4 linked regions of the Homo sapiens genome follow. The protein of the gene in region 1 interacts with the protein of each later gene in a pairwise test. Each region holds a gene or a part of one and is shown in the gene's direction. Other genes may lie near its edges.

Region 1 (7,248 bases):
AGACAGGGTCTCACTCTGTCACCTAGGCTGCACAGTGGTGCAATCACAGCTCATTGCAGTCTTGACTTCCCAGGCTCAGGTGATTCTCCCACGTCAACCTCCCAAGTAGCTGGGACCACAGGTGCATGCCACCACACCTGGCTAATTTTTTTTTTTTTTGTATTCTTTGTAGAGACGGGGTTTCACTATGTTGCCCAGGCTGGTCTCAAACTCCTAGGCTCAAGTGATCCACCTGCCTCGGCCTCCCAAGACATTGGGATTACAGGCATGAGCCACTGCACCTGCCCAATTTATTCATTTTTTTAGCAACAAGGTCTTACTCTGTCACCCAGGGTGGAGTGCAGAGGCATGATCATGGCTCACTGCAGGCTCAACCTCCCAGACTCAAGTGATCGTCCCATCTCAGCCTCCTGAGCAGCTGGGACTACAGGCACGTGCCAACACACTTGGCTAATTTTTGTATTTTTGTAAAGACAGAGTCCTACTATGTTGCCCAGGCTGGTCTTGAATTCCTGGGCTCAAGCCATCCTCAGACCCGGTCTCCTAAAGTGCTGGGATCACAGGTGTGAACCACTGAGGCTAGCCAACTTTATTTTTAGAAACATTACATGTACAGAAAAATTGAAAAGATAATATGGTGAATTCCTATATACCCTACATTCAATTTCCTCAATTATTATCTGACATTAGTATGGTACATTTAGCACCATTAATGAAACAGTATTGAAACATTATTATTAACTAAAGTCTACAGTTTATTCAGATTTCCTTTGAGTTTTTGTTGTTGTTGTTGTTGTTTAGACTGAGTCTTACTCTGTCACCGGGCTGGAGTGCAGTGGCACTGATCTTGGCTCACTGCTGCAACCTCCGCCTCCCAGGTTCAAGTGATTCTCCTGCCTCAGCCTCCTGAGTAGCTGGGTTTACAGGTGCCCGCCATACGCCCAGCTAATTTTTGTATTTTTAGTAGAGACGGGGTTTCACTATGGTGGCCAGGCTGGTCTTGAACTCCTGATCTCGTGATTCGCCCGCCTTGGCCTCCCAAAGTGCTGGGATTACAGGCGTGAGCCACCATGCTCAGCCTCCGTGTTTTTTTTTGTTTTCTTATTTTTTGAGACGGAGTCTTGCTCTGTCGCCCAGGCTGGAGTGCAGTGGAGCGATCTCAGCTCACTGCAAGTTCCGCCTCCCAGGTTCACACCACTCTCCTGCCTCAGCCTCCTGAGTAGCTGGGACTACAGGTACCTGCCACCACGCCCGACTAATTTTTTTTATTTTTAGTAGAGACGGGGTTTCACCATGTTAGCCAGGATGGTCTCCATCTCCTGACCTCATGATCCGCCCGCCTCAGCCTCCCAAAGTGCTGGGATTACAGGCATGAGCCACCGTGCCCAGCCTCGTTTTTTTAAACTAATGTGTTTTTCTGTTCCAGGATCCCATCTAGACCACCACATTATGTTTAGTTCTCAAAAACATAATGGGCTGGGCATGGTGGCTCATGCCTGTAATCCCAGCACTTCGGGAGGCCGAGGCGGGCAAATCACCTGAGGTCGGGAGTTCAAGACCAGCTTGACCAACATGGAGAAACCCCATCTCTACTAAAAATATGAAATTAGCTGGGCGGGGTGGCACACACCTGTAATCCCAGCTACTTGGGAGGCTGAGGCAGGAGAATCGCTTGAACCTGGGAGGGGGAGGTTGCGGTGAGCCAAGTTTGTGCCATTGCACTCCAGCCTGCTCAACAAGAGTGAAACTCTGTCTCAAAAAACAAAAACAAAAAAGCCCATAATGATGTTTGGATGACTTTGACAGCTTTGAGGAGTACTGGTCAGGTATTTTGTAGGATGCCTCTATTGGAATTTGTCTAATGTTTTTCTCAAGATTAGAGTGGTGTTATGGGTTTTGGGAAGGAAAACCACAGAGTTAAAATGCCATTTTCATCTCATGTTATCAAGGGTACATAGTATCAACATGATTGATGCTGACTTCCCTAGGTCAGCTGAGGGAGTGTGTGTGTGAAATACAGGATGACCATATCAGCACTGTTGGCCTAGACTTTTCCTTCTGAGAATGAAATCTCTTCTCTTGCCCATAGCTCAGCCCCATTTTGACTTTTTTTTTTTTTTTTTGAGACAAGAGAGGCTCGCTCTGTCACCCAGGCTGGAGTGAAGTGGCATGATCTCGGCTCACTGCAACCTCTGCCTCCTGGGCTCAAGCAATTCTTCTGTCTCAGACTCCTAAGTAGCTGGGATTACAGGAACCTGCCACCATGCTGGGCTAATTTTTGTATTTTTATTAGAGATAGGGTTTTGCTGTGTTGGCCAGGCTGGTCTCGAACTTCTGGCCTCAAGTGATCCTCCCACCTCAACCTCCCAAAAGTGCTGGGATTACAGGCATGAGCCACCATGCCCAGCCCATTTTGACTTTTTTTTTTTTTCTCTTTTGAGACAGAGTCTTGCTCTGTCACCCAGTCTGGAGTGCAATGGGGCGATCTTGGCTCACTGCAGCCTCCGCCTCCTGGGTTCAAGGGATTCTCCTGCCTCAGCCTCCTGAGTAGCTGGGCTTACAGCCACCTACCACCATGCCTGGCTAATTTTTGTATTTTTAGTAGAGACGGGGTTTTGCCATGTTGGCCAGGCTGGTCTCGAACTCCTGACCTCAGTTGATCCACCCGCCTCGGACTCCCAAAGTGTTAGGATTACAGACCTGAGCCACCATGCCCGGCCCATTTTGACTTTTAAAAAGGTCCTTGTTTTAGACCAGGTGCAGTAGCTTACTCCTGTAATTTCAGTAATTTGGGAGGCCAAGGTGGGATAATCACTTGAGGCCAGGAGTTTGAGGTCAGCCTGGGCAACATAGCAAGATATTGTCTCTACAAAAAGTAATTAAAAAAAATTAAGCCAGACATAGTGGCTCATGCCTGTAGTCCCAGCTACTTGGGAGATTGAAGTGGGAGGATCATTTGATCCTGGGAGTTCGAGGCTGCAGTGAGCTGTGGTTACACCACTGCATTCCAGAAGGGTTACAGAAGGAGACCTTGTCTCAATAACAACAACAACAACAACAACAACAATGAAACAAACAAATAGCTGGGCATGGTGGTGCATCCCTGTAGCCCAACCTATCTAGGAAGCTGAGGTGGGAAGATGGTTTAAGTCCAGGAATTCAAGGTTACACTGAGCTGTGATGGTGCTGTTGCACTCCAGCTTGGGTGTCAGAGAATGACCCTGTCTCTAAAAACATTAAAAAAAAAAATTCTTGTTTTGAAAGCTTGAACCTTCCCCAGGAGATGCCCCCTTCCTTGAATTCCTCAATTCATTTGGCTCTATCATCTGTAGTTTTCCTACCCATCACCATCAGATCCTCTTAAAAAAAAAGTTTCAATTTCTACTAACAGTTTCTGAACACCTGGATCTCTGCTGGGCCCTGTGTTAAATCATTGAATGGGAAGCAGCTAATCCATATAAATAACTCCGGCTTTGGAGTCAGTAGGATTTAGGTTGGGATCACAGACCAGATGAACTATGAAATCTTGGGCAGGTTCCTGTGGCTGTCTTGGCTTTGGCTTCTTAAATGGAGAGAATTATATTTGTCTCACAAGATGATAAGAGGAATAAATGAATCTTTCTTAATCCTAACATTAATTTTACTTCCAAAAATAAAAATCCTATGAATACATTTTTAAAAGCTAATGTTTATGCTTATAAAATATTGACACACACTTTTTTGTGACTTCTATTTTAAATCCTTTAGGACTTTGGAGAACCACACTTTTGTCAGTCGACTTTAAAAATCGTCCTATCAGGGTCCTACTCATAAAGCGATCTCAATTGTAGGCGTCTCATAACAGAAAGGTCGTGATAAAAAGTAACCGAAAGAAAACGGAAGGAACTTCAGACAGCTTCTATGGAAATACCGAGTTTGGTCAAGGAGGCCTCTCCCATTCCGATTTTCTATTGGTTAAACTTACCATCAATCACACCAGTTGTAAATAAACTGAAGACGGAAGCATGTTGTTAGCGGGGTGGGATCTTCCTGTCGCCACTGCTAGGGTGAGAACCCATTTTCCAATAGGCTGAAAGCTGCTTTTCCCGCCCTCTCTCTTCAGTTGCTAAGGGGCGGGACTCATAGGGCCCTTGGAGGGCTGGGTGCTCGAAGCCCTGCCCATCCCATTGGTTGATAGGGGCGGGTTTCGTAGAGGATAGGCTGCTGTCGTTGCCCGTTCGGAGTTAGTTGCTGGGGTAAGGCACGTGAGGAGGAGGTGGCTTGAGGCAACCATGGCGGGAGGAATGAAAGTGGCGGTCTCGCCGGCAGTTGGTCCCGGGCCCTGGGGCTCGGGAGTCGGGGGCGGTGGGACAGTGCGGCTACTCTTGATCCTCTCCGGCTGCTTGGTCTACGGCACAGGTACCGCCCGGGCAGCAGCTGCCAAGGGGGCAGGTGCCGAGGGGGTTATTTTTGGAAAAGGGATTGTCCCGAGGGCGCGGGCCGTTACTCTGCAGAAGGGCGGTGGCTCTACCGAGGGCCGCCGGCGTAGTGTGGTGGAAGAAACTTGGCAGGCTAGTGGGCGTCGGGACTGAGGGTCTGGGCCCTGAAGCGGGCTGGGGCAGCTTCCAGAGTGGGGAGGAGCCTGAAGCCTTTTGGCGGAGACAGGAAGGGAGGCCTAGACTGGTTGAGAAGCAGTCCTGGGGGCTGTGTCTCGTTGCAGAAGCCTTGAGTTTCTTGGTTAAAAGCGAGAAAACCTGGGGACCATTCTGGGCAGGCAGAGCAGCCGCGGGAAAGGGACCATCTCATTCATTCGGCAAATCAGCAAACACCATCTGAGCGTATGCTCTGTCAGGACGCAGGGCACGGGTGGCAGAACGGATGTAGTTGACAGAAATGCAGTGATCTCTACTATCTTCTGCTCTTGTAAAACCTTGATTCCTTACCGCCCCCGGCCCGCGAGATGGAGTCTAGCTCTGTCACTCAGGCTGGAGTGCAGTGGTGCGATCTCGCTCACTGCAACCTCCGCCTCCTGGGTTCAAGCAATTCTCCTGCTTCAGCCTCCGGAGTAGCTGGGATTACAGGCACCCGCCACCGCGCCCGGCTAATTTTTGTATTTTTAGTAGAAATGGGGTTTCACTATGTTGGCCAGGGTGGTCTCGAACTCCTGACCTCGTGATCCATCCGCCTTGGCCCTCCCAAAGTGCTGGGATTACAGGTGTGAGCCACCGTGACCGGCCAAATAATGCATGTTTATTTTAGATGATTTGGCAAGGTACAATTAAGTATAAAGAAGCAGGCAGAAACCACACTGTTAATCCATTCAGAAGCAATCTATTTTAGCACACTTTCTTCTGATCTTTTTCCACATATTTTTAATTTTTTATGAATTGATAATTTGTATCCAGTTAGTACTCTAGTTCTCTTCCCTGGAGGCTGCCAGTCGTTACCAGAGATAGTTTTCTCGTTTGATTTTGTAGTACAATAATTTTCCCAAGTAATTTAAAATTCTTTTTTTGTTTTTTTGTTTGTTTGTTTGTTTGAGATGGAGTTTTGCTCTTGTTGCCCAGGCTGGAGTGCAGTGGTGCAATCTCAGCTCACTGCAACCTCCGCCTCCTGGGTTTAAATGATTCTCCTGCCTCAGCCTCCTGAGTAGCTGGGATTACACTTGCCCGCCACCACGCCCGGCTAATTTTTTTTTTTTTTTTTTAAACAGAGTCTCCCTCTTTCGCGCAGGCTGGAGTGCAGTGGCCAGATCTCGGCTCACTGCAAGCTCCGCCTCCCAGGTTCACGCCATTCTCCTGCCTCAGCCTCCCGAGTAGCTGGGACTACAGGCGCCCACCACCACGCCCGGCTAATTTTTTGTATTTTTAGTAGAGAGGGGGTTTCACCGTGTTAGCCAGGATGGTCTTGATCTCCTGACCTCGTGATCCGCCCGCCTCGGCCTCCCAAAGTGCTGGGATTACAGGCATGAGCCTCCACACCCGGCCTTAAAATTCTTTGTAAATGTTGTCTTACTTGTATTACATTCCAATGTATGTGCAGATGTTCATTTAATTTTTTTTCTCCACCCCCCGCCCGCCCCGCCCCGCAGAATGTAGTCTTGCTGTCTGGCCCAGGCTGGAGTGCAGTGGTGCAATCTCGGTTCCTGTTTCAAGCCATTCTCCCATCTCAGCCTCCCAAGTAGCTGGGACTACAGGCATGTGCCACCACACTCGGCTAATTTTTTTTTTTTTGAGACAGAGTTTCGCCCTCGTTGCCTAGGCTGGAGTGCAATGGCACTATCTAGGCTCACTGCAACCTCAGCCTCCAGAGTTCAAGCACTTCTCCCTCTGCCTCCCGAGTAGCTGGGATTATAGGCGCATGCCACCATGCCTGGCTAACTTTTTGTATTTTTTGTACAGACGGGGTTTCACCAGGCTGGCCAGGCTGGTCTCAAACTCCTGACCTCGTGATCTGCCCACCTCAGCCTCCCAAAGTGCTGGGATTACAGGCGTGAGCCACCACGCCCAGCCACACTCAGCTAATTTTGTATTTTTAGTAGAGATGGGGTTTCACCATGTTGGCTAGGTTGGTCTCGAACTCCTGACCTCAGGTGTTCCGCCCGCCTCAGCCTACCAAAGTACTGGGATTACAGGCGTGAGCCACCATGCCTGGCCTTCATTTATTATTTTTTAGTGACGTGGTTTTGCTGTGACACCCAGGCTAGAGTGCAGTGCACAATCATAGCTCACTGTAACTTCCCACCTCGGTCTCCCCAAGTAGCTGGGACTACAGGCACGTGCCATCTGCCTGGTAAAAATCATTATTAATGTTGTGGATTAAACATTTGGTTGGATATTGGTGGTTTGTACTGTTGGTTGGATATTTGTGGTATTTCTAGTTTTTCATTGTTGTAAGTTTGTGAACATCTTTGTGTATACATTTTTATTTATTTATTTATTTATTTTTTTGAGATGGAGTCTTGCTCTGTTGCCCAGGCTGGAGTGCAGTGGTGCCATCTCGGCCACCTAGGTTCAAGCGATTCTCCTACCTCACCCTCCCGAGTAGCTGGGATTACAGGTGTGTGCCACCATGCCCGGGTAATTTTTTTGTATTTTTAGTAGAGTGGGATTTCGCCATGTTGGCCAGGCTGGTCTCAAACTCCTGACCTCAAGTGATCTGCCCGCCTCAGCCTCCCAAAGTGCTGGGATTACAGGTGTGTGCCACCATGCCCGGGTAATTTTTTTGTATTTTTAGTAGAGTGGGATTTCGCCATGTTGGCCAGGCTGG
Region 2 (7,025 bases), on another chromosome or scaffold:
CTGCAGCCTGGGCAACAAGAGCGAAACTCTGTCTCAAAAAATAAAATAAAAAGTATAAACTAACAAATTGGGGTGGGAGGAGGTAATAGACTATTTTTCAAGAACAATTTTACAGAAAAATTGAGAAGATAGTACAGAGATGGACGTTTCTCAAAAAACAAAAAATAGAACTACTAGACAATCCAGCAATCCCACTACTGAGTGTTTATCCAAAGAAAAAGAAATGAATATATTGAAGAGACATCTGCACTCCCATGTTACTGCAGCACTATTCACAATAGCCAAGAAATGGAATAACCTTAAGTGTCCATCTACAAATGAATGGATACAGAAAATATGGTTCATATACATAATGGGATATTATTCAGCCATAAAAAAGCATGAAATCCTGTCATTCGTGACATAGACAGAATTGGAGGTCATTATGTTAAGTGAATAAGCTGAGCACAGAAAGACAAATATTGCATGTTCTCACTCATATTTGAGGGCTAAAAAAGTGAAACTCATAGAGGTAGAGAATAGAATGAGTTACCAGAGGCTGGGATCCAGGGGCAGGAGGATGAAAAGAGGCTGGTTCATAGGTACAAACATATGGTCACATAGAAGGAATAAGTTCTAGTGTTCAACAGCACAGTAGGGTGACTATAGTTAACAACAATATATTGTATTTTTCAAAATAAATTTAAAAGGCTTCTAACACAAATGATAAATGTTCAAGGTGGTGGATGTTCTAAATACCCTGATTTGATCATTAAACATTGTACACATGTATCAAAATATCATATGTATCCCATAAATACATACAATTTACATATATCAATTAAAAACATTTTAAGATAGTATTGAGAGTTCCTATATACCCCATACTCTGTTTTCCCTGTTATTAACACATTAGTATGATACATTTGTTGTAATTAATAGTATTATCATTATGGTCTACACTTTATTGGTTTTTTTTTTCATTTTTATTTAATATCCTTCTGTTCCAGAATCCTATTCAAGATACTACATTACTTTTTTCTTTCTTTTTTTTGAGACAGGGTCTTGCTGTGTCACCCAGGCTGGAGTGCAGTGGCACAATCATGGCTCACTGCAGCCTCAACCTCCTGGGGTCAAGCGATCCTCCTCCCACCTTAGCCTCCCAAGTAGCTGGGACTACAGGCATGCACCACCATACTCAGATTATTTTTATTTTTATTTTTATTTTTTGTAGAGATGAGGTCTACGTTGCCTAGGCTGGTCTCAAACTCCTGAGCTCAAACCATCCTCCCCGCTCGACCTCCCAAAGTTCTGGGATTCCAGGCGTGGCCCACCATGTCCTGCCCTACATTACATTTAGTTGTCATGTCTCCTTAGGTTCCTCTTGGCTGTGACAGTTTCCTAGACTTACCTTGTTTTTAATGACCTTGACAGTTTTGGGAAGTGCTGGTCAGGTATTTTGTAGAATGTCCCTTTATTGGAACTTGCCTGCTGTTTTACTCATCATTGTAATACTGGGGTTATGGCTTTTGGGAGGAAGACCAGAGAAGTCAAGTGCCATTTTCATCACATCACATCATATCATATCATACAAGTGATTCAGCAACATGATCATTGTTGATGTTGGCCTCGATCGCCTGGATGAAGTAGTGTTTATCAGGTTCCTCCGCTGTAGAGTTAGCCTTTCTCCCCATGTTCCACACTGTGCTCTTTGGAAGAAAGTCACTATGCACAGTCTGCACTGAAGGAGTAAGGAGTTAAGCTCTACCTCTTTGAGGATGGAGTACCTACATGAATTATTTGAAATTCTTCTATGTAGGAGATTTGTCTTTTCTCTGCTATTCATTAAGTCACTTATTTATATCAGCATGGGCCCACAGATGTGTATTTTTTATTTTGGGTAATAATTCAATATTTCTTTATTTCGGTGCTCAAATTGTTCTAGCCTTGGCCATTGGGAGCTCTTTCAGTTGGCTTCTGTGTCCCTTTGGGATGCTCACATTGATGAGGATACTGATGTGGGGAATTCATTTTTGTTTCTTCGTGAGCATTTCCTTTCTTTGGGGCACTACAAGATGCTCTAGGCTCATCTCGTGCCTTTCCTGCCCCCATCCTAGAATCAGCCACTTCTCCAAGGAGCCCAGGGGATGGCTATTTTCATTACAAGGTGATCATTCACCTTTCATAGGGATAATGGTACTGGTGTGTGCAAATTATTTTATATAATTTGACTGACAACTTTTCAGGAACATACATTTTGCTAAAAGCTAGACTCAGCCATTTTAAAAGTTGTATCTAGCTCTTAGAAGTTTCCAGCCAGGCTTCATTCTAGTCGGAATGTGAAAAGCTATCCAAAGAAGAGAAATGTCTTTATCTCCATCCTCATCGTGAAAGGAGGTCATTCATGATATTGTGAGGTGCCATAAGGATTTTACAGAAAATTCTAGCATAGTGGAAAGAGTTCCAGAATGAGATTGGGAGGTTGGATTTGGTCCAGATGGTGCACTGCACCCATATGCACTTGGTTAAATGTTACTTCCGCTCTTTTGGCCTCATCTATAAAAAGAGGTGAGTGGCCAAAACCCATTTCTAAGGTTCTGTTCACCTCCAAACGTGATGCTATGAACAGCAGCAGCAGCACTAACTTTGGAATGGCAGTAGCTTTGAGGAATCCAGGGTGGGAAGTGGGGGCAGGAATGGGGGTGTGCAAGGTCAAGCTGTGAAATGCAGAATTTGAGAGCTTAGGGGAGAGATATCATTAGTGATCATATTAAATATTAATAATAATATTAAAGACTTAATCTTGATTTTAATGTAGCCTGTATCTGTGGCTCTAGATCCCTGGCTGATTATTCTTTAGGCTTGTAGGTTCTCAAGCTTGGCTGCACATTGAAATAACCTGGAACACATTCAGAAATACTGTTGCCTAGGTCCCAATGCCAAAGATTCTGATCGACTTGGTTTGGGATGCAGCCTAGGCATTAGCAGTTTTTTAAGCCTCTCCCCCAACAACCCTAAGTCCCAGGCGATTCTAATGGCAGCCAAAGTTGAGCATGTGCTTTCAGCTATAAACGCTCTTGTCCCTCCACCATATCCACGCATGGATTAAGGGTCCTCAGTGTACCATCTGCATAGCAGCAGATGAATTGGATCTGGACAGTGTATTAGTTTCCTGTTGCTGCTGTAACAAATGACCGCAAACTTAGTGGCTTAAAACAACACACATTAATTTTCTTATATTTCTGGTGGCCAGAAGGCCAAAACAGGTTTCACCGGGCTAAAATCAAACAGATCTCGCTGGGCTAAAATACAGCAGCCCCGCATTCCTTCGGGAAGTGCTAGGAAGAGCTCGCCTCCTTGCCTGCTCCAGCTGTTAGAGGCAGCCCTCATTCCTCCATCCGTGGCACCACAGCAGTCCAGCCTCTGCCTCCATCACCGTCTCCTTCTCTGACTCTGGCCCTCTTGCCTCCTTCTTAGAAGGTCTTTTATGATTATACTGAGTCCTCAGGGATAATTTCCCTAGCTCAAAATTCTTAATCACATTTGCAAAGTTCCTTTGGCCATGAAAAGTAACACAATCACAGGTTCCAGCAATTAAGACGTGGACATCTTTGAGGGGACATTATTCTCTCCACCATAGATAGAGACAGAGCAACTGCTGTCATTACAGGCCCATAAATACAGTTAACTTACTCTATGATATGTGGCATCTCTTTACTTTGCCCATTTTTTCAACTTTTATTTTAGGTTCAGAGGTACATGTGCAGGTTTGTTATATAGGTAAATTATGTGTCATGGGGTGATATTTCATAACCCAGGTAATAAGCATAAGTAGTTTTCCGTCCTCTCCTTCCTCCTACCCTTCACTCTAAAGTACATGTGGCCATGTGTACTCAATGTTTAGTTCCCACTTACAAGTGAGAACACATGGAGTTTGGTTTTCTGTTCCTGGATTAATCTGCTTAGGATAATGGCCTCCAGCTGTATCCATGTTGCTGCAAAGGACATGATTTCATTCGTTTTTATGGCTGCGTAGTATTCCATGGTATATATGTACCACATTTTCTTTTCTTTTTTTTCTTTTGATATAGAGTCTTGCTCTGTCGCTAGGCTGGAGTGCAGTGGCACGTTCTCAGCTCACTGCAACCTCCGCCTCCCGGGTTCAAGTGATTCTTCTGCCTCAGCCTCCTAAGTAGCTGGGACTACAGGCATGTGCCACCATGCCCAGCTAATTTTTGTATTTTTAGTAGAGATGGGGTTTCACCATGTTGGCCAGGATGGTCTCAATCTCTTGACCTCATGATCCACCTGCCTCAGCCTCCCAAAGTGCTGGGATTACAGGCATGAGCCACTGCACCCGGCCCCACATTTTCTTTTTCTTTCTTTTTTTTTAGAGATGAAGTCTCACTCTGTTGCCCAGGCTGGAGTGCAGTGGCATGATCTCGGCTCACTGCAACCTCCGCCTCCCAGGTTCAAGCGATTCTCCTGCCTCAGCCTCCCAAGTAGCTGGGACTACAAGTGTGTGCCACCATGTCCAGCTAATTTTTGTATTTTTAGTAGAGATGGGGTTTCACCATGTTGGCCAGGCTGGTCCCAAACTCCTGACCTCGTGATCCACCCGCTTTGGCCTAAGTGCTGGGATTATAGGCGTGAGCCACCGTGTTTGGCCTGACCCCACATTTTCTTTTTCCCGTACTGTTGGTGGGCATTTAGGTTGATTCCATGCCTTTGCTATTGTGAGTAGTGCTTGTTTGGCCTTTCTTGTTTTAGCTGTGCTACGATTTAATCAGATACCATCTTTGTGGAAAATTATACACCCTGGTGAAAATTTGACATGAAAAACAATGAGAGCCTGGAAGCAACAGAAATCAAGAGCAGATACACATTTTTCAATAGTTCAGTAAAATGACACTCAGAACTGTAATTGGCTGCAGTGGGTTTTAAAGGGCAGACAGAGATGCTCACTGACTCTGGTGGAGGACTGGCCACCAGGCCTGGGGAATGACTGGCATCTCTGTCATGTAGTTTCCCTGCCTCCCCCATGCTCCGTGAGCCTGGCAGTGCTGTGGGACAAGGCGCCAGCTGGCACCTGCAGCTCTGCTAGCAGCTCCCACCCTCCTGGACAAAGAGTATGAAGGCCAGCAAATAACACTTTGGGCCCTGAGTTAGAGGCATGGTCAAATGATGTGAGGTGGGAAGAGACCGGGGCCAGCTGAGTGTGGTGACTCACACCTGTAATCCCAGCACTTTGGGAGGCTAGGGTGGGAGGATCAATTGAGCCCAGGAGGTCAAGGCTGAAATGAGCTATTATCATGCCACTGCACTCCAGCTTAAGCAATAGCACAAGACCCTCCTCCCTCACCCCGCAAAAAAGAGGGGGCTGTATATACAGGCAGAGAAGAGTTCTGGAAGACGTGGTTTTAGATAAAGGTTTGCCATTTACTGCTGAATGCACCTGCCCTCCCCTGCCAGATGGCAGAGGACCTTCAACAAGGAGGCCTACAGGGAAAAATGAGGGACTCATCTGACCCTATTACCTGTTCTGGGGGCCTAGCTCCCTTCTTCCACCAAAGCCCCATGGTGGCTCTTTCCAGCTGCTTTCCGTCTTGCAGGACAGTGGTGTCTAGCCAGCCATCTCCTTCCCCACTGAGTTGGTCAAGACCCTGCTGCTGAGAACTCTCTCCTGCCAGAGCTTGGCCCCATCTGTTGCCATGGCAACAGCCAGCTGCTGCTTAGCACCAGCCTGGAGACTGGGCACAAAAAAAGGGTGGCCAAGGGAAGTAGGCACTGGGGCTCTCCTGCACCCCTGGAGGCCTGGGGGCTAGGGGGTAGATAAGGCCTCTTTGGGGTCTCCTATTAGTCTCTGATGGGTTTGTTCTCTCAGGGAGAAGCCAGGAAATTTGAAAGATCTAAACTCCTCTCTATTCCTCCACACTGGAATCAGAGTTTGTGAAGATAAAGGTTCCTTTGCCAAGGCAGTTCCAGTGCTTACATACATGCACTCACACACAGTCCTTCACATTGGAGTGCACTTTCTTTTTGTACTTGACATGATATTGACCTCTAAGAGGGTTAGAGAGCTGGGAGTATGCAACCGCCCAGGCCTGCTTTAGGTATAAAACCTGTCCTTTGATGCAGATAGATTCGAATTCAAAACTTTTCCATTTATGTGTGACCCTGGGCAAGTTAACTATTAATAATGATAGATAATATTTATTGTCAGGCATTGTGTTAAATTATTTCCATGCATTATTTTAGTTGGTTCTTACAGTAATCTTGTCAGTTGTTTGTTCTTACTTCCCATCTTCAGATACAGAAACTGAGGCTCAGAAATTTGCCCTATGTGTACCCAAGTTTGACTCGCTCTGAAGACTGTGTCCTTTTTAATTTTAACTTCAATTTATTAGAGACGGGGCCTCACTCTGGCACCCAGGCTTCAGTGCCATGGCACAGTCATGGCTCACTGCAGCCTTGCACTCCTGGGCTCAAACCATCCTCCTGCCTCAGCCTGCTGAGTAGCTGGGACTACAGGTGCACACCACTGCACCCAGCTAATTATTATTTTGTGTGTGTGTCTAGAGACAAGCTCTCACTATGTTACCCAGGCTGGTCTCAAACTCCTGACCTCAAGTTGATTCTCCTGCCTTGGCCTCCCAAAATGCCCAGCCTGAAGCCCATATTCTTAATCACTCTTCAGTATTAACCTTGGATTGCCTTAATTTCCTCATCCGTAAAATAGGCATAATGTCTGCCTCACAACCTAATTGTGTTACGAGCACTGAATGAATAATGAAAAATATGATGTGGGTAAAAGTGTCTCATGGAGGTAAAGCCCTGACAGATTCTATCAGCAGAATCACTGGGGAGGTGAAAGATGCTCACCTTTGGGTCCCAGGAAAGCAGTCCTTCTCCTGCTCTCCTAGGTTTCTCATGGCATTCAGGGCTCTCTGGTTTCCAGAATCTCAGGGTCTGGCTCTTTTCCTGTCTCCACAGGTGATTTCCATGGTGATGGTGGCTGTGGGTGTCTACGCTCGGCTAATGAAGCA
Region 3 (7,025 bases), on another chromosome or scaffold:
AATGGCAAGACAACAGCTTCTCCCCCTAGATCCTTCAGAAGCAACATAGCCCTGATTTTAGCCTGGTGAGACTCATTTTAGACCTCTGCCCTCCAGAACTGTAAGATACATTTCTGTTATTTTAAGCCACGAAGTTCGTGGTAATTTGTTTCAGCAGCAATAGGAAATGCAGACCTGAAAAACCCATCTCTCAGGTCTGTTGAGAAGATGAATATCAAATGCCTAACATAGTGCCCAGAGCATTGTAAGTGCCCAATAAATGGCAGTTTTCATCACTATTTCCTTATCTTGGAAGACAGGAGTAGCTAAATTATCATGTGCCATTGATACCAAAGGCCTAAGGGAGAAGAAGAGAATGCATAGTGAAAAAGGAGAACATTTTAGTGGCCAGAAAATTCAGAATATCTTGCCCACTGACATATCACCACCTTCCAATAACCAACCCACAGCTGGGCTGCCTCCCTGGCATTTCTGTCATGTCCTTGCCTAGGTTTCTTCAATTTATGCTTTTCTTTTTGCTCAGAGCAAGTTTCTACCTTCCTTCTTTTCTCCCACTTTTATCTGCGTTTTCCACCCTAATTGTGACTCCTGCAATTCTCCCATAGAATATTCATTTGCTCTTTCCCCTTTGTCTAAACTCTGTGTGGCAGAGTCATCTCTGGAAAAGTCTGTACGTCACGGGGCATAATTGGGTCACCCAGGCCACCTCCCTTGATCGGGGCCCCTGCAGTTCCTTTCTGGACCAATAAAGCCCCTCAGCGGTGCCTCTGTCTTTCTCCACAGCCCTCCTTGTCCCCTTGATGTGCACGGTCATTTTTCCTTTGAACCCACGCTGTAATTGCACTTTAAACTCCTTGAGGCCAGGCGCAGTGGCTCACGCCTGTAATCCCAGCACTTTAGGAGGCCAAGGCAGGAAGATCACAAGGTCAGGAGTTCGAGACCAGCCTGGCCAATATGGTGGAACCCCATCTCTACTAAAAATACAAAAAAAAAAAAAAAAGCCAGGTGTGGCGGTGGGCACCTGTAGTCCCAGCTACTAGGGAGGCTGAGGCAGGACAATAGCTTGAACCTGAGAGGCGGAGGTTGCAGTGAGCCAAGATCGTGCCACTGCACTGCAGCCTGGGCAACAGAGCAAGACTCTGTCTCAAAAAATAATAATAATAATAAAAATAAACTTCTTGAAAGAAGAAATTGTCTTATTTCACACAGTACATAATCAGTACGAGTTGATATCGGTGCTGAATTTGGCCTCTACTGATTTCTGCCCTTTCCTCTCTATGCTTCTGTTATCTGAACTCCTACGTTTCACAGTCTATTTACTTTTGTCTCTAGTTTAGATACTAACCCAACTGGTCAGGAATAATGTCTGTACATACCAGTAATGAACTTTACAATGTGACTCAACCAGCTACATGAGTAAGTTTCCCCCTTGGGGGAGTTTGTGCAGTCTAACACGCAACAATAACTGGAAAGAATGAATGAAATTTCTAAGCAGAAAGAAATGAATGGCATTTCTAAGCAGAAACTACACAGAGACGCAATGGCCCAGATTCTTCCATTTCTCCAGCAAACATGAATTGAGTACCCACTGTGTGCCAAATTCTGAGCTAAAAGTGCTCATAAATTTTAACTGAACTTGTCACAGCTACCCAGGTAAACAGATAAAGGAAAACATTTAGAGATGTCTAAACTTACTTGGAAGGTTGTTAATACTTACAGTGTAACAATGAGGTTAAAATTTAGCAAGGCTTGAGACAAATAGAAGGTTTGCCTCCCACTGCTACCCTACAAAACTAGGACTTTGACCAAATTGACTGGTTTGCTATCTTGTGGGCACCTTGCTCTTCTGTCTCTACTCCCTAACTTTTCCTTTCTCTTTACCTGGAATGTCACCCACCCCCACCTCACTCCCACACATATCCACCTCTACTCTACATATCAAACCATACACATCCTGCAAGACTTACGTCTTCCCGCCTCAGGACTCTCACAATATTTCATCTCACTACATGTAGTATAATTGTGTGGGAATGCATCTTAGTTTCCCTACTAACGCAAAAAATCCTAGAATACAATAATCTCCCTTACATATCTTTGTATGCCTCAGAATGCATATTGAACCATTTAATACATTTTTTATTTACAGCAGGAATGCATGAATTGATTAATTAAATGTTGAGAGCTGTAGATGGCTTTTCTCAAGGTGCTTCAAGTGCAGAAGCCCAAGTGATTGACCCACACACTTACCTTTGTGTTCCTTCCAGAAAATCCTCAGGGAGGTGAGAGACCCATGTTCAGCTGTGTATGGCACCAAAGTCTATACATAGTTTCTGGGAGTCACTGTGGGCTGTGGGGAAGCACGTGGACTCTGGAGTCACACACACCAAGGTCTCTAGCCTAGCTCTGCCACTTACTGGTTGTGTGACCCCAGGGAACTTAATTTACAAATTTAAGCTTTAGTTTCCTCATCTGCAAAATGGAGCCTCCTCGCCTTTCTTCTTTTGCTACCGAACTGGGTTATGAGAATTAGATGCGTGCATGCAAAGCACCTGGTAGAGTGGCACACACCTGGCAGAAGGAAGTAAATTCTAGTCCCCGTTTTCACTTACCCTCATATACAACGGGGCACTTTTTTATTTGCCAACTATTTCTTTGAAGATAATAAAAGAGTCAGAAAATGATAGTTTTTAAAAGCACCCTGCAGTCCACATGGGAACCAACCACTACCTCTGGCCATGAGTTTACCCTTTGGGTTTCCATTTGTCATGGCCAAGGGCAGTGAGGGCTATGCCAGGGACCCTCAGTGTGTTTGGCCCTACCCAATCACCATCTCAGGTCTACCCCTTGTGCATTCCACCTTGCGGGGCTCAGTCCACCACTCAGAAGGATGCATTCTGCACACTCCTTGCCTGAAAGAACTCCTGAAAGGCACTGACCAGGCTCTGGAAGGCTATATTCTTTTCATTCTTTATAAAAGTTATGTGATTACCAAGCTCAATAATCAAATGTCCTTCATCGCTAAAAGATTATATGGCTTTGGTTTGGATGCTTTGGGAACAAGGAGGCAATACGCAATGGCTTGGTTTACTCATGTTACAGAAACTGTAGCAGTTATTTGGTAATGCTTTCAACAGTGCCTTCAGCTTGTGGGAAATCCCGAAGATGGCCAAAGACAACTCAACTGTTCGTTGCTTCCAGGGCCTGCTGATTTTTGGAAATGTGATTATTGGTGTAAGTAATGATTATTTTCCAGGAAATTCTGCACTTCCTGTAATCATAATTCTAGATGAATCAAAAGTAAGAGTTTAAAGGAAAATAATGCTGTGATTACTGGCTTCCTATATTTTTGCTTCATTTTAAGAAATGTGTTAGTAAATATGCTAGCTAGAATTTAACTGTATGTCAAAAGATCATGGTTGAAAAAGTAGATATTTTCCTCCCAACTTTAAAATATAAGTATCTAAAAGGAGTCATGTCAACCATAGTCAGTGTCTAAACACTCTGACTACGAACACACTTCACTATTTCTTTTCTATGTCACCTTGGTTTGATTTCCATGGGACTCTGCTGTTAAGGTTTTTTGGGACAGATGCTTGCATCTTGTTCTTCTCATACAGAGGCCAGTACCAGGGTGTAAGAATAATACAGAGGCCATACTGTGTGGGTCTGGTGGCATAGAAGAACATTTGTTTTGGAGTCCAGAGCTCTTGGCCCAGCTCTCCCTCTGACTCCCCATATGACTCTGGCCATCACCTTTCAAGGCTGAGATTCCTCATCTATAAAATGTGGGTGTTGGCAAAGATAAGCAGCAAGGTTCCTCTCAGCTGTCATTGATAAATATGACCAGGACCAGCTCAAATATTACAACCCAGAAATGTGGGTCATGACATGGGGGCAGGGGGAGATCATTCTCATACCAGAAAGCATTGTTTGAGTGATTCATGCCCCAAGGACATTGTGGATGGTCTGAAATTGTGTGGGTCTGTTACTAAATAGACAGAATAACATGTGAAGGGATGTATGCAACCAGTTAGTAGGATGGAAGTAGTTGTTTGATTTCCTGGCAATGGGGAGTTTAGATTAGTTGCATAAAGCCTGTGCAGGAAAGGGAGCCAGTCACTCTTACCTTCCCCACCCTCCACCCCCTTTCCCAAAGCTGCACTCCTGATGGAGCCCACCTTTCATTTGCCCCCAGTGTTGCGGCATTGCCCTGACTGCGGAGTGCATCTTCTTTGTATCTGACCAACACAGCCTCTACCCACTGCTTGAAGCCACCGACAACGATGACATCTATGGGGCTGCCTGGATCGGCATATTTGTGGGCATCTGCCTCTTCTGCCTGTCTGTTCTAGGCATTGTAGGCATCATGAAGTCCAGCAGGAAAATTCTTCTGGCGGTAAGACCTCAAAATTCTCTGGAGTTGTCTCCCTGAGCCAATTGTAATGGATTCTTTCTTCTTCACTGAGCAATGCTTTGGCTTTCAGTGGGGGAGCAGGAAGTACCAGATAAGGGGTGAGGAGGGGAAGACTTTCCCTGCAGTGAAATGGTCCACATGGAGGCAAAGATGCCCTCCACTATTGCAAGCCCAGAAGGCTCCAGTACAGAGAAGCCAAAGGGGAGACACCTGGGGGTGACCTAATGAGTATTTTCCATATTGTGCCTCTACAGCTGGTGTCTGCATACACCCAGTAGGTACAGCTAGGAGCTATATAGGCCAAAGGAGAGACACAGTGAGAATTCATTCATTAGATTTTTTTCTCTTGGCAATAACTTGTTTAAAACATTTTGATATTAATTAGGCATTAATATATTAGGATATAAAATATAAAATATGCATACATTTTTAAAAGAAAGTATAAGCTTTCAAAGATTTTTGAGCTCAAGGTTGATGATTCTGTATCATAGCCTATACTCCCCACATTATCATCCAATCTGCTTTTCAGGGACCCCAGAAAACCTTGATAAGCACCACTGTAGAGTGAGCCTTCAGCTCACACCTGCCTGTGGGGGCTTTAACTCTGTACATCAAGGAGAGGCTTCTGCCCCAAACCATAGACAGCAAGACCATGCCCTGCCTTTGCAGATGAAAGCAAATTTGCAGGCAGCAGAGCTGAGAAACCTGTTTCAGACGTGGACCCCTACTGTCTGCCCTAATACTTAGGGCAGCAGTTTCACACTATTATGGAACACGCCTCCAATCCCCCACCCCTGAAATAACCCTTTTATTCAAATGCTGCAGGACCTCAGTTCCCCCTTTATAGAATGAGTCCAGCAATGTAAGGTGCTTGTTAGTTTACTCTTCCTTTTAACTAACCACTGTCCTGGTTCCAATGGATTACAGAACATTTACATTCTCTGGTTCCTTAGTGTGCGTAAGTTCCAGGGCAAAAGTACCCACTTTTGGTGGGTGGGGAAAGGAATACAGGAAAAAGGGAGAGGAGACACAGGTGTTCCTAAAGACAAATTCACTTGCATCCCAGCCTCACTTTGGGCCAGCCATGTGCATGCCTGACAACCAGGAGAACTGAGCTGGGGAGGCAAAGGGGCTAAAGGAGGAAACACCTCACTGCATACCTCCTTTCTGGAGCGTCTTTACCAGGAGCCAGCAAAGCTCTTGGCAAGGAGCAAGGCAGCAGCTAACACAGGAAAAAAATGTTCTGGGGCCTCTGAAGGTGCTCCTGCTGTTGACTGTAGCCAGAGCTTTATTCTGGGCTGAGTAGTGAGGGCAACAGAGGGTCCTGCTCGGAGAGCCTCCCATACCCAAAGAGGAGGACAGTTTTCCCTGCCTACCCTGCTGACACTGACCACAGTGCCCCTTCTCCCAAGAGTGTGTGCAAGCCTGGGGAAGGCAAAGCTGGAACTCTTGCAAACAGTCCCCATCCCAGATTCAGAGGTCATTTGCTGTTCGGATATTTTCCAGCCAGAAATAGCATCACTGTCATGTGGAGGTATCATGTGCACACGCACCCATGTGCCCATGCTCACGCACACACACCACCACTACCACACACAGCAAATGCCATTTCACTCAACTGAACCAATGTACTTTGAGTGTGGGTGCGTGTGAAAGAACACCCACAAATGCTGTGCACTTGAAGCCTGCCTCTCCTCTGATGAGACTGGATGCTTGTTAGGAAGGACCCTAGATGTTCAACATTATCCAGTTCATCTTTTTCTGAACTCCGTGATTCTAAATTTTCAGCAAATTGTAAAGAAAATTTCTCCAAAATTCCAAAATTAAAGGGGATTTATGAGGCCCTATACTGTATGTGATACACTAAGACTCTCTTGCCACTCACTGAGCATGCACATGCATGTAAATGCACACATGTAAATGAGCATGTAAATGCTCACATGTGTGTGTGCACACATACACACCAGTTCATTCTCTTGTACTTGTTTTTCCCAGTTAAAATAGAAACTCAGGAAACTGGACTGAGGAAGGTCTGTATTCAATGGCTATTTGTTCTCTGGAGAAAAGGAGAGAATTGAGCTGACTAGCACCAAGCCTCAATCCAAGCCACTGGTCAATGAGGGTTTGTTGAATAACTACATGAGTGATTACATGATTATATGATAAATTTGCTGAAAAAACATAATTATTTGGGCAAGTCGCTCTTTGACGGGTAAATGTAATTCTTTTATCTCATTTATTTCCCTTCCAGTATTTCATTCTGATGTTTATAGTATATGCCTTTGAAGTGGCATCTTGTATCACAGCAGCAACACAACAAGACTTTGTGAGTACAACCTCAAAAAGCAAAATAATATGAATTATCATTATTATAACAACCAACATGTATTAACCCCTTACTATGTGCCCAGGCAATCCAATATGCACAGTAATAATACATCTATCATTTTACTTAATCCTCATAAATCTATGAAATAGGCATTATCACTCTGGTCATTTGAGAAAGGAAAAAAAATGAGACAGAAAGGTAAAATGACTTGTCTAAAGTGACATAGTTGGCAACTGAAAGAGCAAGAATTCTGAACCCAGATGGCCTGACTCCCAGGGCCCA
Region 4 (7,383 bases), on another chromosome or scaffold:
TCTCTAGAAACTCGACCACCAAGATGAATTTTAACGTGTCTCTGTCTTTGCACCACTTGATCAAGATTCACAGTTCCCAAAAGGAGAATCTCATTGGCCAGATCACACGCCACCCTAGCTGTGAGGGGTTGGGAGACCAAGTATGTGGCCCCCTTATGCTCCACGGTGGGAAAGAAGGTCCTAAGACTCTCACAGTGATGGAGTGCCCCAAATATAAAGAATGTTTGCATGCTGGTCAGCCACAGAAAAATGAGAGATGTCCAATGCATCACAGTTTAGTAGTGTAGCATCATTTATAAAGATGGGTAAAACTCAGTCTGTACAGCCACACATCCAGTGCCCTAAGTGGGGCAGATTTATGATTAATGGGCATAGGCTTGTTAGGATTTCTTGCTCTAAAGGCTGAAAATTGGCTGGGCATGGTGGCTCACACCTGTAATCCCTGCATTTTGGGAGGCTGAGGTGGGCAGATCACTTGAGGACAGGAATTCAAGACCACCCTGGCCAATATGGTGAAACCCCGTCTCTGCTAAAAATATAAAAAGCCAGGCGTGGTGGTGCATGCCTGTAATCCCAGCTACTCAGGAGGCTAAGGCAGGAGGATCACTTGAACCCGGGAGGCAGAGGTTGCAGTGAGCCAAGATTGCGCCACTGCACCCCTACCTGGGCGACAGAGTGAGACTCTGTCTCAAAAATAAAAATAAAGGCTGAAAATTTTACCAGCCAAAATTAAATTTTAACCAGTTAGCAGTTTCCTGGCACTTTGCCCATAACAATTTTAAAAGTTGTGGTTGAGCACTGCATGCTAGTGGTATATTACAAAACTCCATGCTGCCACCATAGATGAACCCAGGAGAAGTTCTCCTTAATCAAGTTTCCATTTTCCCCTCCTAAGTCCTCGAAAGAGCAAGACGACTCCATGCTTTGCTCCTTCGTAGTCTAGTAGTGACTCTGGAACTCCAGGAACACAGCTTATAGACTTTAGCCCCAGCTCCCCACATAAGGGTCTGGAGGCTGAGTATAAGAAGGGCCAGGATCCATGCTGGGAAACTGCTTGGTCCATGATGGTGATCCTCAAGGCAATAAACAGGACTGAGACCTGCAGAGGAGCTGGCCTGACTGCAGAGGACAAAAGCAGGGGTGTGAGCAGGTAAAGTGGAGGTCACAGCACGAGGTTTCTTCATCCAACCAAGGACATAAAAAGTTGCAGCAATTTCACTTCCAGGAATCTAATTCCAGTGTTGTGATATAGGAGAAACCAAAGTGTTGTCTCCCACTCTCACACAGCCAGCACACTTTTAACACTAGATGTGTGGGGGATGTTTCCCCTCATACCAAGCAATTCTGCAACAGACACCGGCTGGGTGTCCTTTAATTCAATTCAATTCTGGCACTATGTACCTGGAAATAGCAGGGGCTCAGGGTTTGATCCTATGAGACCGCCCCCCATTTCAGATGCCAATCCCAGGTAGTAGGTTGTCTCCTGTACCTCTGCCTGCCCAGCTATAAACTGGAGTTCCCCCAACCCACTCCTTGTTTGGACTAATCTGCTAGAGTGGATCACAGAACTCAGTGAAACACTTTACTTCTGTTTGCTCATTTATGAGGAAGGATATTACAAAGCATATAGATGAACAGTGAGATGGAAGAGATGCACAGGGCAAGAAATGTGGGAAGGGCTGTGGCGCTTCCATATCCTCTCTGAGCACGCCACCCTCTAGGAACCTGATGTTCTGCTCTCCAGAACTCAACAAACCCTATCCTTTGGGCTTTTATACAGGCTTCATTGCATATGTCTGATTGATTACATCATTGGTCACTGGTGATCAACTTAACTTTCAGCCCCTCTCCTCTCTGTGGAGGTCTGGGGGGACAGGGTGGGACTAAAAGTCCCAACCCTCTAATCCTGCCTTGATCTTTCTGGTGACCAGTCCCCATCCTGAAGCTATCTAGGGTCTCCAAGTCACCAACCATCTCATTAGCATACAAAAGGTAAGATATTTTCATCACTCTGGAGAGTCCAAGGAATTTAAGAGTTTTAGGTCAGGAAACAGGGACTACAATCAAATATATATTTCACAATATCACACGCAGATATACCTGCACAAGTACACACTGATCTATGTACAGGGATATTCACTGAAGCATTGTTGGCAACCACAAAAAAAGAAAAACTGGAAATAATCATCCATGGTTACATCAGTTCAATATATTACTGTATAATCATACTATGAGACATAACACAACTACAAGAAAGAGGTCATATATAAGTGATATGATAATGTTGATATATTAAGTTAGAAGAGCACGTGGCAGAACAGTTTGCATACTACTATTCCGTTTTTTTTTAGAAGGGAATATACAAATAGTCTTGTATATACTGGAAGGGCAACCCAGGAACCGTGGGAACTTTTTGGGGAGGGTGGCAAGGAAAGAGAGACCTTTACTTTTCATTTTCTATCCTATTTCTGTTTGACTATTTACTGTGTAGATGTAGTCTACTCATAATTAAAACAAACTAATTTAAAATGCCGGAAAAGTGAAGCATAGCAGGAAAAAGGAGTCAACAGTAAAGAAAAATTTTCCCCAAAAGGGGCTTCTCTCAGTTAAGAACACTTCTGAACTGTACTCACTGAATGTGAAGACCCAAAGAGAAAACAGTCTCTGTCTGTGTCTTTTCCTTAATGTCGCTCAGAGCCAGACCTCTACTCACCTGGTGAGGACCTGGGTCAGTCTCCTGGTATTTGGACATGATCTGAGAGGAGTGAGTCAGGTAAAGGAACCTTCTGGACCACAGACAACAGCCAGGCTCAGCAGGGATCACTGAGGTAGGAATCCCCCCACCCAAACCCCTAAAAAAGAGCCAACAGTTATTAAAAACATGGGACTAGAGTGGGGCAGACTGGGTTTATGGTCCTGTTACAACAGTGGTGATGCTAACAGTTAAAAGACCATAGAAGCTTGTTTCAAATTAATTGGCCTGTAGAGTAGGAAAAAAAAAAAATGACTCTACTAATGATCCTAGGCAATTCTGTCTTCTAGGTTACAGCAAGCAGCCCCCAGAATGGCCTTTATTGAAGCCTGAGTGACAAGAAGCCTGTAGCGGGGTGAGGGGGACCCGCTTGGAAAAAGGCCCCAAAAGAGGAGCTCTTCCTAACTCTCCAATGACATGGGAAAATTTTACTCACACAAAATTCCCTGGAAACCCAGCCACCTCCCGCTCCAAGAGAAGGCCTAGAGATGCAGTGGCCAGAGACAGCCTCAGGCCTTCTTCCCCATGCTGGGGGTGCTGCTGCTTGCCTTCACCCCGACCCGGTATCCCCACTTCCCGCTGCCCCAGATCTCCCAGGCTGAATGTCCCCTCTTCGCCTCCACTCTTCTGAGCTTCTAAGAGCTAACTCCAAGTGAGGAACTGAACCCCTTCCACCCCTACCTCCCCAGGCAATCTGTAGAGCTCTTGAGCCCTAATACCAGTGTCTGGGAGGCGCGTAAACGCTTCCATTTTTATCCTTCCACTGCAGAAAATGCCCAGTTTAGTCTGGGAGACACTCAGACCCCTCGGGACAAGGGTGGCTAGAGAGAGGTCCAAGCTGCCCTGGGTGGGTGGGGAGTCAAGGCAGGCCAAAGCTTCAGATTTAGACAGTAACCACCAAATCCGACCTGGGCTGCAGGTCCAAGGCCTCTTCCTCTTTCCTGCATGCTCCGCTCTGCCGCTGGCCCATCTTCCAATGCAACCCCTACAACTACCAAAGCAAAAAGGCCTGTCCCAACTCCATCCTCACGGCCCGATCCCCAACCCTCAGGGGATGCCGCTTCGTGTCTCCTCTTTATTTTACAACGCGGCCCTCCTTGCAGCCCTCACGAAAAGTTCTGCAGTGGGGTCCCCCAGCGTGGGGCCCTTCTCGAGACCCTTAAAGAGAAGGCTCGTTTGGTGGACCATACCCGGGCAGCGCGGGCCCGGGCCTGGACTGGTTCTACTTGTGTTCTGAGGTCCCTGACCACCGCCTTGGGTCCAGCCCTCGTCCAGGGGGCGGCGGTGCAGGGGAGACCGCGCGGCCCGGCCTGAAGCGCGGCCGCCCTCATCCCTTCCCCGGGGCTGGGGTGGGTCACCGGCCGACAAACACAGGAGGGGCCGCGTCCCCGTCCCCGACGCGCTCACAAACGCCGTGGTCGCCCGAACCTTCGGCCCCGCAGCATTCGGCTACAGGACCGCGACACTGCAGGGCCCCGGCTCTGCGCGCTGCGCTCCGGCCGCTCGGCGCGGGAGGACGTGCGGTCGCGCCTGCCTCGGTGGCCGCGCGGGGTAGGTGGCTGCGGGGACCGGAAGGATGGCGAGGAAGTCGGAAAGGGTTTCCTGAGATGAGAGATTACTTCCGTCCGGGCTGCGGCCTCTCTCTGGAGTCGGCTAGCCGGGGCTCGGGGAGCGGGGTGCGCAGGGCTCGGGGCCACGCCTTGCCACCTGCAGCGCCCGGGTGGGCCGCGGGGGCCTCGGCGGGACGCGCTCGGCCCTGTCGCAGGAGCTAACGCAGGGGGAATCCTTGCAGGTGGGAGCATTTCAGAGCGCACAAGCCATGGTGGCCAAACAGCGGATCCGGATGGCTAACGAGAAGCACAGCAAAAACATCACCCAGAGGGGGAACGTAGCCAAAACCCTGGTAAGGCGGGGTCGGCGCCGGCCAGGCAGAGCCCTGCAGCCCGGCGGGGTGGGGCGGAAGGTGGGGGCGGGGCCGGGCGGGTAGCGGCGCAGGGTCCGGCCTCCCGGCTCCCGGCCCGCCCCTTCTGCGGGGTCCTGCAGAGTGGGGGCTGAGAGCTGGGTTCAGGGCGGCGCGGTCTGCTTGGCGTCCTCGTGGGCGGAGAGGGCCCTGGTTGGTCGTGGCCCCTCTGGGAGTGGCTACCTGGGCTACCAGGGAGGCGCAGAGGAGCCCTCCTCCCCGACCCGCACCCCCTGTCCCCCTGCCCGGGAGACAGCTGGGCCTTGTCCCGGAGAAAGACGGAAAGCCTCATCCTTAGGGGCCAGTTAAGTCAACTGCATGACACAGAGCCTGGAACCTAGTATGTTCTAGAACGTTGCATGACACAGAGCCTGGAACCTAGTATGTTCTAGAACGTTTGTTGAATGAATGAATGAATCAATGGCTAAATGGAGGCCACTTGTCATCTCCTCCCGGACTCCACCTGTCTTCCCTCCCCAACAGACTTGCACCAGGATCAAGTTTTCTTTCCAGCCCCTTTGTGACGGTTTCACTGGAGGTGTGGAAAGAGCTCAAAATGGGGAGTGAGATTTGGACCCACATTCCCTCCAGCCTCTTTTTTCTCTTTTACCTCTCTTCCAGCGAGACCTCCCTCAGCCCCTAGGCTAAAGTCTAAGGGCAGCATTCCTATTCTTTCCACTTGGTGAATTCAGACTCATTCTCATGGTATAACTTTAGAGACCAGTTTATTGTCAGGCATTCGGTGTCCCTAGAACTGTAAATTCAAGCTTTGCAACTGGACTTTTAAGTAAAACCTGTGCCTTACACTCAGGAGTTTCTTTTAGCAAAGCAGATTATCATCAACAGAAAATGCGAGGCCTGTGACTTTGGACATTCAGAGGCATGAGTCGCATGGGTAGTTTGGCGAAGTTGGTCTCCAAGTATATGAGCAAAGGCGCCTGGGATCTGTTACCCCGTACAGTTAAGTGGAAATCCAGCTGAAGCCTGGAGTTTGGCTGGGAAAGCTTGCAGATTTGATGAATCAATTCCTTTTAGCCAAAGAAACTATATTGGTTTGATTAACTAAGCAAAAAGCTAGATCTGTAATCATCACACCAGAATTCTTGCAAAACCAAGCAGTATTACGGCAGAGAAACTCTAGGACCAAACTCAACTCTACTCAGAGCTTTATACACAAGTCTAAGCATAACTCAACTCTACTCAGAGCTTTATACACAAGACCTAAGTAATCCTTAAAATTCTCTCATTTAGGAATTATATCACTCAGTTGTGATTAGGCAGCAAAATGCCAAGATGCCATCAAATTGGAACCATTTTGTCACATTGATTTATGTTTTCCCTATTTTTACTGAGGAAAAAAAAATGGCTGCCCGGGTTGACATTGAGAAGCAACTTATAATTGATGTTAAGGCATGCAGGGTTTTATATCCCTAAGAGATCAATTCTTCCTTCTCAAGGGATCAGACCTGCTAACTGACACAGTGAAAAATAACTAGTCATGTGGCTCTTTTTCATGAACTAAAAAACCGGAGTTCAGTTGTCAGATCTCAGTTGACAGCTTATCTGATTACAAAAGTAAGAAGAAAACAAGAACTAATTTCTAAGGCTGTTGTATCTATTAGGTTCTGTAGACTCAGTGTCTGCCACCTCAAGTTCTTCAAGAAAACTAGAAAATGTTTGGGACCCAAAACAAAAATTATTAGCTCCAAAATAAAAGAAGAAAATGGAAAAATTGGGAAAACATTGTTTAAATACCTAGAAAAGGTACCAGTCACCTGCCATTCAACTCAATGTTCAGAGCTACATTTAAATTATATTTAATGTACAGTATGAGTTCATTTTAATATGCTCTGATATGTCATGGGGTGGCCCCCAAGAAACTCTCATAGTGCCTTGCACCTATAAGAGTTTTTAAATGGCCCAGCTAAATTTGTAATGAAAGGTTTCCAGACCAAGCCACAATCAATGTTTGCTTTGCATTGGTTGGGGGGATTTTGGTTAATGTTATTGTAAATAGATTACTATCCAATAGAAAAATGAAATTTTCTTTCAAAGAGAAACTTGATAAATCCTAAATCTCATGTTCTCAATTACAAGTCAAATATGATTATACTTTGTTAAAAGTAACTTGCAAAAGATCACTATTCAGGATGAAATTCATTAAATGGGAACAAGTATAGATTCCAACTGAAAATTCAGACTAATTGTTCAGAAATAAACTTCTTTAATTGTATGCAGATGCTTCAGTATTTTATTATTAGCTAATAGCTTACGGATAAATTAATATTATTCTCCCAGATAGCAGACTAATCCAAGAAACAAGGCCGGGCGTGGTGGCTCAGCACTTTCTGTAATCTCAGCACTTTCGGAGGCCAAGGCGGATGGATCACCTGAGGTCAGGAGTTCGAAACCAGCCTGGCCAACATGGCACAACCCCGTATCTACTAAAAATACAAAAATTAGCCAGGCATGGTGGTGGGCGCCTGTAATCCCAGCTACTCAGGAGGCTGAGGCATGAGAATGGCTTGAACCCGGGAGGCAGAGGTTGCAGTCAGCCGAGATCACGCCACCGCACTCCAGTCTGGGTGACAGAGCAAGACTCCGTCTAAAAAAAAAAAGGAAACAGAGAAATGGAATAATCATTTTGTGATTATACAGTAGTAACTTCTCC

The links.
Region 2: the proteins of NEMP1 (region 1) and TSPAN33 interact in binary tests that used the Homo sapiens proteins (3 or more experiments, as listed by UniProt).
Region 3: the proteins of NEMP1 (region 1) and UPK1B interact in binary tests that used the Homo sapiens proteins (3 or more experiments, as listed by UniProt).
Region 4: the proteins of NEMP1 (region 1) and SERP2 interact in binary tests that used the Homo sapiens proteins (3 or more experiments, as listed by UniProt).

Annotation. Positions count from the first base shown.
Region 1 is NC_000012.12:57,075,769-57,083,016, reverse strand, and holds the start of NEMP1 (nuclear envelope integral membrane protein 1 isoform a precursor), read left to right. Parts: upstream 1-4,225; 5' UTR 4,226-4,271; coding exon 4,272-4,398; intron 4,399-7,248. UniProt on the Homo sapiens protein: Together with EMD, contributes to nuclear envelope stiffness in germ cells. Required for female fertility. Essential for normal erythropoiesis. Required for efficient nuclear envelope opening and enucleation during the late stages of erythroblast maturation.
Region 2 is NC_000007.14:129,154,707-129,161,731, forward strand, and holds part of TSPAN33 (tetraspanin-33), read left to right. Parts: intron 1-6,972; coding exon 6,973-7,025. UniProt on the Homo sapiens protein: Part of TspanC8 subgroup, composed of 6 members that interact with the transmembrane metalloprotease ADAM10.
Region 3 is NC_000003.12:119,183,580-119,190,604, forward strand, and holds part of UPK1B (uroplakin-1b), read left to right. Parts: intron 1-3,134; 5' UTR 3,135-3,162; coding exon 3,163-3,231; intron 3,232-4,195; coding exon 4,196-4,396; intron 4,397-6,665; coding exon 6,666-6,740; intron 6,741-7,025. UniProt on the Homo sapiens protein: Component of the asymmetric unit membrane (AUM); a highly specialized biomembrane elaborated by terminally differentiated urothelial cells.
Region 4 is NC_000013.11:44,369,455-44,376,837, forward strand, and holds the start of SERP2 (stress-associated endoplasmic reticulum protein 2), read left to right. Parts: upstream 1-4,369; 5' UTR 4,370-4,571; coding exon 4,572-4,655; intron 4,656-7,383. UniProt on the Homo sapiens protein: Interacts with target proteins during their translocation into the lumen of the endoplasmic reticulum. Protects unfolded target proteins against degradation during ER stress. May facilitate glycosylation of target proteins after termination of ER stress.